Homo sapiens: one gene and its partner. The protein of the gene in region 2 interacts with the protein of the main gene of each other region in a pairwise test. Each region holds a gene or a part of one and is shown on either strand. Other genes may lie near its edges.

Evidence for each region.
Region 1: the proteins of ACP6 (region 2) and GNG7 interact in a two-hybrid assay, tested with the Homo sapiens proteins (one large-scale study listed by BioGRID and IntAct).

The regions. Positions count from the first base shown.
Region 1 is NC_000019.10:2,520,906-2,524,929, forward strand, and holds part of GNG7 (guanine nucleotide-binding protein G(I)/G(S)/G(O) subunit gamma-7), read right to left. Parts: intron 1-4,024. UniProt on the Homo sapiens protein: Guanine nucleotide-binding proteins (G proteins) are involved as a modulator or transducer in various transmembrane signaling systems.
Region 2 is NC_000001.11:147,646,507-147,650,024, forward strand, and holds part of ACP6 (lysophosphatidic acid phosphatase type 6), read right to left. Parts: intron 1,906-3,518; coding exon 1,740-1,905; coding exon of another isoform or gene 1,671-1,739; exon of another isoform or gene 1,061-1,670; coding exon 917-1,060; 3' UTR 1-916. UniProt on the Homo sapiens protein: Hydrolyzes lysophosphatidic acid (LPA) containing a medium length fatty acid chain to the corresponding monoacylglycerol.

The DNA of each region.
Region 1 (4,024 bases), on a different chromosome or scaffold from region 2:
GGCACGCGGTCAGCCGTCACAATCCTCTGTGGGAGTTTGCAGAACGAGAGAATGAAAGGGCGAAGGCAGGCTGGGCGTGGTGGCTCACGCCTGTAATCCCAGCACTTTGGGAGGCTGAGGCAGGTGGATCATGAGGTCAGGAGATCGAGACCATCCTGGCTAACACGGTGAAACCTCATCGTTACTAAAAAAAAAAAAAAAAATACAAAAATTAGCCAGGCATGGTGGTGGGTGCCTATAGTCCCAGCTACTCTGGAGGCTGAGGCAGGAGAATGACGTGAACCCGGGAGGTGGAGCTTGCAGTGAGCCGAGATGGTGCCCCTGCACTCCAGCCTGGACGACAGAGCAAGACTCCGTCTCAAAAAAAAAAATAAAGAAAAAATAAAGAAAGGGCAAAGGCAATAGGCCAGGCCCTCTGGAGAAGGGAGGACCCACGCAGGCTCCCGGGTGGCCTGCCTCAGTCCATGGCAGGGGTTCTTGCCCTCCAGGGGACACTGGGTGATATCTGGGGACATCTGTGGCTGTGGGGGGTGCTCCTGGCATGGAGTGGGTTGGGTGGAGGCCAGGGACATTGCTCAGCTCCCTGCAGTGCCCCGGACGGCCCCACGCCAGGGAAGGATCCGAACGCGATATCCATAGTACCCAGGGGAGACCCTGGGTCAGGGCAGGGATCACAGCAGAACCCCTGGTGACTGTCCCCCTCCGTGTTTTTTTTTTTTTTTTTTTGAGACAGAGTCTTGCTCTGTTGCCCAGGCTGGAGTGCAGTGGTGTGATCTCGGCTCACTGCAACCTCTGCCTCCCGGGTTCAAGCGATTCTCCTGCCTCAGCCTCCCGAGTAGCTGGGATTACAGGCACGTGCCACCACACCCGGCTAATTTTTGTATTTTTAGTACAGACAGCGTTTCACCATGTTGGCCAGGCTGGTCTTGAACTCCTGACCTCAGGTGATCCACCCTCCTCGGCCTCTCAAAGTGCTGGGATGACAGGTGTGAGCCCGGCCTCTCCTCCGTGTCCTTCATATTGAACCAGTCAGGAGCCCATGCTGTTGCTTCTTGAATTCTCCTGGAAAAACCCAGGACCTCAACAGGGCAGACGATCACAGGACGCAGAGTCTCTTGGGAGTCCGTGGAATCCCCAGATCTCATCTGGGGATGACTCTGCCCTCCATGGAGCACTGGGTGATGTCTGGGACATTTGTGGCTGTCATGACTTGGGGGTGCTCCTGGCAGGGAGTGGGTGGAGGCCACGGATGCTGCTCAGCACCCTGCAGTGCCCAGGACGGCCCCGCTCCAGGGAACGATCCAGCCCCACGTGTCAGTAGTGTCCAGCCTAGAGAAACCTGCTTCGTAGGACCCAGTGAGGGGGTTGGTGCTGATGGGGGTGGCAGGGGCAGGGGCCAGGTTCAAGAGTCCTGGGCAGCCGCAGTCCCAGCCGGGCGTCTGTGAGCAGTTAATTAAGCCGCACCCTGTCTCTGTCATAACTCATGGCATCGCTGTCTGTTTTGCAGAGCCAGGCAGCCGCAGAGAAGTCAAGGCAGATTCCAGAGTTCTCAAAAAATGCCTACTTAGTGATAAGAAGGAAAGGACTGGCCGGGCGCGGTGGCTCACGCCTGTAATCCCAGCACTTTGGGAGGCCGAGGCGGGCGGGTCACAAGGTCAGGAGATCAAGACCATCCTGGCTAACACGGTGAAACCCCGTCTCCCGGGCGTGGTGGCGGGTGCCTGTAGTCCCAGCTACTCGGGAGGCTGAGGCAGGAGAATGGGGTGAACCCGGAAGGCGGAGCTTGCAGTGAGCAGAGATCACGCCACTGCACTCCAGCCTGGGGGACAGAGTGAGACTCTGTCTCAAAAAAAAAAAAAAAAAAAAAAAAAAAAGAAGGAAAGGACCATCCATGCATACCACACCGCAGGGGAATCTCCAGGGCCTGGGATGTGTAGCATGCTTCTGTTTGTGTAATGTGTTTAAGAGGACTTTTTTTAGACAGAGTCTCGCTCTGTTGCCCAGGCTGGAGTGCAGTGGCATGATCTCAGCTCACTGCAAGCTCCGCTTCTCCAGCTCCAGCGATACTCTCACTTCTGCCTCCTGAGTAGCTGGGATTACAGGTGCATGTGCCACCATGCCTGGCTAATCTTTGTATTTTTGGTAGAGACATGGTTTTACCATGTTGGCCAGGCTGGTCTCAAACTCCTGGCCTCAAGTGATCTGCCTGTCTCGACCTCCCAAAGTGCTGGGATTACAGGCATGAGCCACCATGCCCGGCCCAAGGACGAAATTTTAGAAATGGAGAACAGATTAGCGGCTGCCAGGGATCAGGGAGGGGCAGGGGCTGGGAGGGAGATAGGTCTCTGTATAAAAGGGCAACACAGCCAGGCATGGTGGCTCTTGCCTGTAATACCAGCACTTTGGGAGGCTGAGATGCGAGGATCACTTGAGTCCAGGAGTTTGAGGCCAGCCTAGGCAACATAGCAAGACCCCCTCTCTACAAAAAATTAGAAAATTAGCTGGGCATGGGTAGCGCACTCCTGTGGTCCCAGCTACTTGGGAGGCTGAGGTGGGAGGATCACTTGAGCCTGGGAGGTTGAGGCCAGACTGGGCAATTTAGTGAGACCCCATCTCTGAATAAATAATAAAAGGGCAACACGAATGATCCCTGTTAGTGCCTCAACTACGGTGATGAATCCACAAGCCTACATGAGTGATAAACTCACAGAGAGCCTCACACACTCACACACCAGCGGGCACAATACTGAATACTGTGGAACCTGAGTGAGGCTGGTGGGTGTGTGACTGTCTGGCTGCGATCCTGCCCATAGCTTTACCAAATGTTACCACCAGGGACGGCCGGGGAATGACACACAGAATTCCTCTACATTCTTTGTTAGCACTGGCTGTGACTCCACGGCGATCTCAATAAAAGGGGCAATTAAACAAAAAATCCCTTTGACACCGCCCAGCCTCCTTGGTTTCCAGCAGACGTCCCACCCCCACTTTTTGGGGGCAGAGAAGGCCCAATCTGTCTGCTCTGGAGGCAGAGCCCACGTGTGGCCGCTCAGAGGGCTCTGATTCCAGAGAGCTTCAAAGCAGCCACAAAACATCCAACTCAGGGAAAACCGCCCTTGGTTGGGCTTAAAAATACCTAAATTACTCAGTGCTAAAAATACGTGCACGCAGAGAACAAACGGGCTGGCCGCACCTCCTGTTTTCCTTGGAAGGCCAGGGGGTCCTATTTAGCATCCACAGTCAGGAGTGTCCACCCAGACCCTGGGCCCCTGCTGCCCTGGGCAGCCACCGCCCGCAATTTCCATGTGAGCATCAGGTCCTGAGCCGTGCTGGCTTTTCTGTTTTGGGCGAAATTCCCTGCGAGATGCTGCCTTTGGGCTGGGTAATAACCCAGGCCTGCCAGGAAGGCCAGAGAGGACTGCGCTGTGTGTGTGTGTCTATGTTTATTTGCATGTATGTCAATGATGCACATGTGACTGTACACGTGTGTACACGTGGTGTGCATGTCAGTGTGCACATGTGTATGTGTGTGCACATGTGCATGTATGTGTACCTTGCGTGTGCATGTATGTGTGTATGTGTATACTGGCATTCATGAGTGTGCATATATGCGTGTGTGCACACATATCTGCATGTGTATGTGTACCTGCATATGCATGGGTGTGCACGTCAGCATGCATATGAGTGTGCATCCTTGCATGTGTGTACATGTGCATGTGTCTATATGAGTGCATGTACACATCTACGTGTGTGCGTCTGCATATGAGTGTGTGCATAGGTGCATTTGCATACGTGCATGTGTGTGGACATGCATGCCAGTGTGCACGTGTGTATGTGCACGTGTGTGGACACGGCACTGCATGTGCGTGTGCGCACACGTGTGTGGGCATGCATGTCACTATGGGTGTGTGCATGCGTGTTGGCGTGTGTGTACGTCACTGTAGGTGCGTGGATATGTGCGTGCGTGGGTGTGTACATGTGTCTGCATGTGTACATGCGTGTGCGTGTGTGTGCGCACGGGAGT
Region 2 (3,518 bases):
ACTGGTGGTTTGAAATCAGAGAAGGGTTGAAATAGATTCTGGAGAAGAACAGCAACATTGACAAGGAGATAGGGGGATCATCAGGTACTCTTAGGGGGCACAGTTAAAGGTGGAGCTCTTATGTTGAGTAGTTCCAGCCTTACCATTGCAGAGCCCTGGGGCCCACATTTGTTTCTGGAACTAAAACCACCAGGGGCCCAGTGTCCTTCCTGCTTCTTCCTGCTGAGCCTCCACATCAGGGTTCCATCTCACCACCCAGCAACGTTCCCTGACCTTGAAGCCTATCCTTTATCTAAACGCAACACGCTTTCATCCTTGCTTTCCTGGTTAACTCCTACCCACCTTTCTCTACTCAGATCAGGCCAGGACTTTTTCAGAAGCCTTCCTTGACTGTTCCCCACATCCCCTGCCATGTGAGCAGGAAGTTTCTTCTCTATACCCAAATAGCCCCTCAAATACCTATTACAGCATAAAACATACAGCACTGTATCACTGATTTACTCGGCTGCCTCTCCCACTGGACTGCAACAACTTGAGGGCAGAGTGTTTTCACCTTTATAATGATCACTACTTAGTAGGTAGCTCAATACATGTGAAATTAATATAGGAGAAAAGAACTAAAGTCCAAAACCGACACAATTCTACAGGGTCATGATGTCCCCAGCCCGTGTCACACAAAGATGCTTCTAACCTTAGAAACCAACTCACAAAATAGAGAAATATCCTTTTGGTCTCAATATTATACCCCTTTTCCGTTCAGGAAGAAATCTTAGTAAACCCACAGAAAGGAAATATCCTTACATTATATTAAAGTACATTACCCCTTGCTCTCTCCTCTTCCCAAACACACAAAGCAGGAGGCATTGTATAAAGGCACTTTATTTTAAAATCAACACATCCTGCTTTTATAAATCAGTTACTCTTCATTTCCAACTTCCATCACCTGAGTTTGAGAGCAGAGTGCGTGGTATTTTTCTGGGCTTAAGGTATAAACTGACATGGCATTCAAGAACATGTCCAGCGGGCAGAGCCCATCAGGGCAACCTCTCGGCACCTGCTCCTGCAGAAGAAACATAACTCAGCAGGTCCGCCGAGGAACCTGTCCTTCTGCTATTTCCAGCTAAGCCCAGAGATCTGAGAGGCTCTGATCCATGTGGTATACATGTGCATACATATTACAGACAGGAAGGCCCCACTACCCGGTGAGCTTCCAGAATAAAAGCACTATGCTCTGCTTGTAAAAGTCACTCAAAAAGTGTTGAATTGACTGGGAAGAAAGAGTCGAGTTACATCCCCGAGCTGGGAGAACCAACAGGCTCATCCCTGGGGCGTGCTCTGGCCTCTGCCCTGGACCCCAGCCCTGATGAAGCAGCCAACACCACGGGTGCTAACAGCAGCACACATCACCTCCCAAAGATACCACCAACAATCTCCAAAACAGGTCTCACAGCCAGGAGGCGACATCCTGACAGGGACGCTCAGGAGAAGAGGAGGGGGACCCTGTTCCTAGGAGTCTGTAACAGAACTGGGATAAGGCTCAAGCCCCATCCTGCCACCATCTGTCAAGTTCTGCCTGACCCCTGGGCCATAGCCAGGAGTTGCCCTATAGGATTCAGAGAGCTGACTGTGCCAAGAGAGACTCCACTGGGCCTGAGGAGGGAGACTTGGTGCTAACTCAGGTAGGTGGGTTTTGCAGGAGGGTGCCTCACCACCACCCAACCCCACCTCAGGGGTATTACCTTCCCGTGGTAATAGAGCTGCACAAACCACTCCTTAGATTCCAGGTGCTGGTAAAGTTCCATGGTCAGGTCAACAGCAAACGGTGGCCATTTGTGGTCAAAAATCCCCAGGGTCATTAAGAGCGGTATGAAGGTCACATCATGAGCCGCATAGAGATACAGCTTTCTGCAAGAGGAAACAGCTCTCCACAATTCTCTGCCTCAGGACTCTGAAGGTCAGGATGTGGCCTGCCTCCTTTACGTAAGACACACTTGCCTCAGAAACTAGGTGACATCTAGAAATCAGCTGAGCCTGGTATAAAAGTCCTTTGCAGTAGATCGTGGGAAGAACCCTTGTTCCCACTCCCCGTGTCTTCATGAGGAGGGTCCCCGCCAGAGAAATTCTCCTGGCCTCCTCCTTGCCACCTACTCACTCCTCCCTGGTGAGTTTCAAAGAAGAAACTGAGCGTGTGTGGCTTAGACCCTACCTCTCTTCTCTCTTTGGGTCCTGCCAGCCTACATGAATGCCCTTCCTACTCTCAGCCATGGGATGAGTTTAGTAGGGCTCCTTGTTGGGGAAGCTTGAAGTTTTGGGGTATTAAGTTTATTTCAAAATAATATTCACAAGCCCATTTGGCCCTCAGCACATTCTCCAAATGGCTTTAATCTGTAATAAGAATGCCATTTTAATCTACATCTGCCTGACACCAGTATCCATCTCTTAGGAAAGACCAAGGATTTTATTTATGGACCCCCATCCTAGAAGACTAGCATTGGATCCTGTGGTGTTCTAAAGATCCAAGGCAGAAGGTGGCAAGGTGGCAAAAGCCAGAAAAAATGTACTGTCATTGCAGGTACTGTGAAGGACAGGAAATGGTATTCACAAGATTTGCTATTACAAATCTTGGCCCAAAGTTCCTGTTTCAACTCACTGTCTCCTATTCCTCTTACGCCATCATGAGTTTCTAGCTGTGATACCACAACAGTGCTTCTCCAAAATTCAGGTGACTATCAATCACCTGGGGATCTTGTTAAACTGCAGATGCTGATTTAGTAGATCAGGCTGGAGCCTGAGAACCTGATGAGTTCTTGGGCAACGGTGAAGCTGTTTTCCTGCAGAACGCACTTAGCAAGTGCCTAGGACACATAATATTCCACAGCCGTAGTCCCAACCTTGGATTCAAGGCTCCAAAAGTGGCAATGGAGGCTCATGAGCTACTTCCAACATTTTTTTTTTTTGAGACAGAGCCTGGCTCTGTCACCAGGCTGGAGTACAGTGGTGTGATCTTGGCTAACTGCAACCTCCGCCTCCTGGGTTCAAGCAACTCTCCTGACTCAACCTCCCGAGTAGCTGAGACTAAAGGTGCGTGCCACCATGCCCGGATAATTTTTGTATTTTTAGTAGAGCAGGGTTTCACCATGTTGGCCAGGATGTTTTCAATCTCCTGACCTCGTGATCCACTCACCTTGGCCTCCCAAAGTGCTGGGATTACAGGCGTGAGCCACTGCACCTGGCCACTTCCAATATTTTTAAATGCCTTATGGATATCATACCTTCTTTACACTCAATGAAAGTGGTTCAAACTACACAATCCATTAAGCAATTTATCTTTGTTTTGGACTATTATCATATCAAATCAGTGTGACATCATAATTGGCTACTGTTTGACATATCTTCAATTAATAAAAAAAAGAGAGAGAGAAAGCAAAAATAAAATTTTCAAAACATGGTAGGAGGGGTGCAGCAGGAAGAAAGGTTAAAAGATTGTGAACCTCTTTGACACTTGAGGCCTGTTAAAC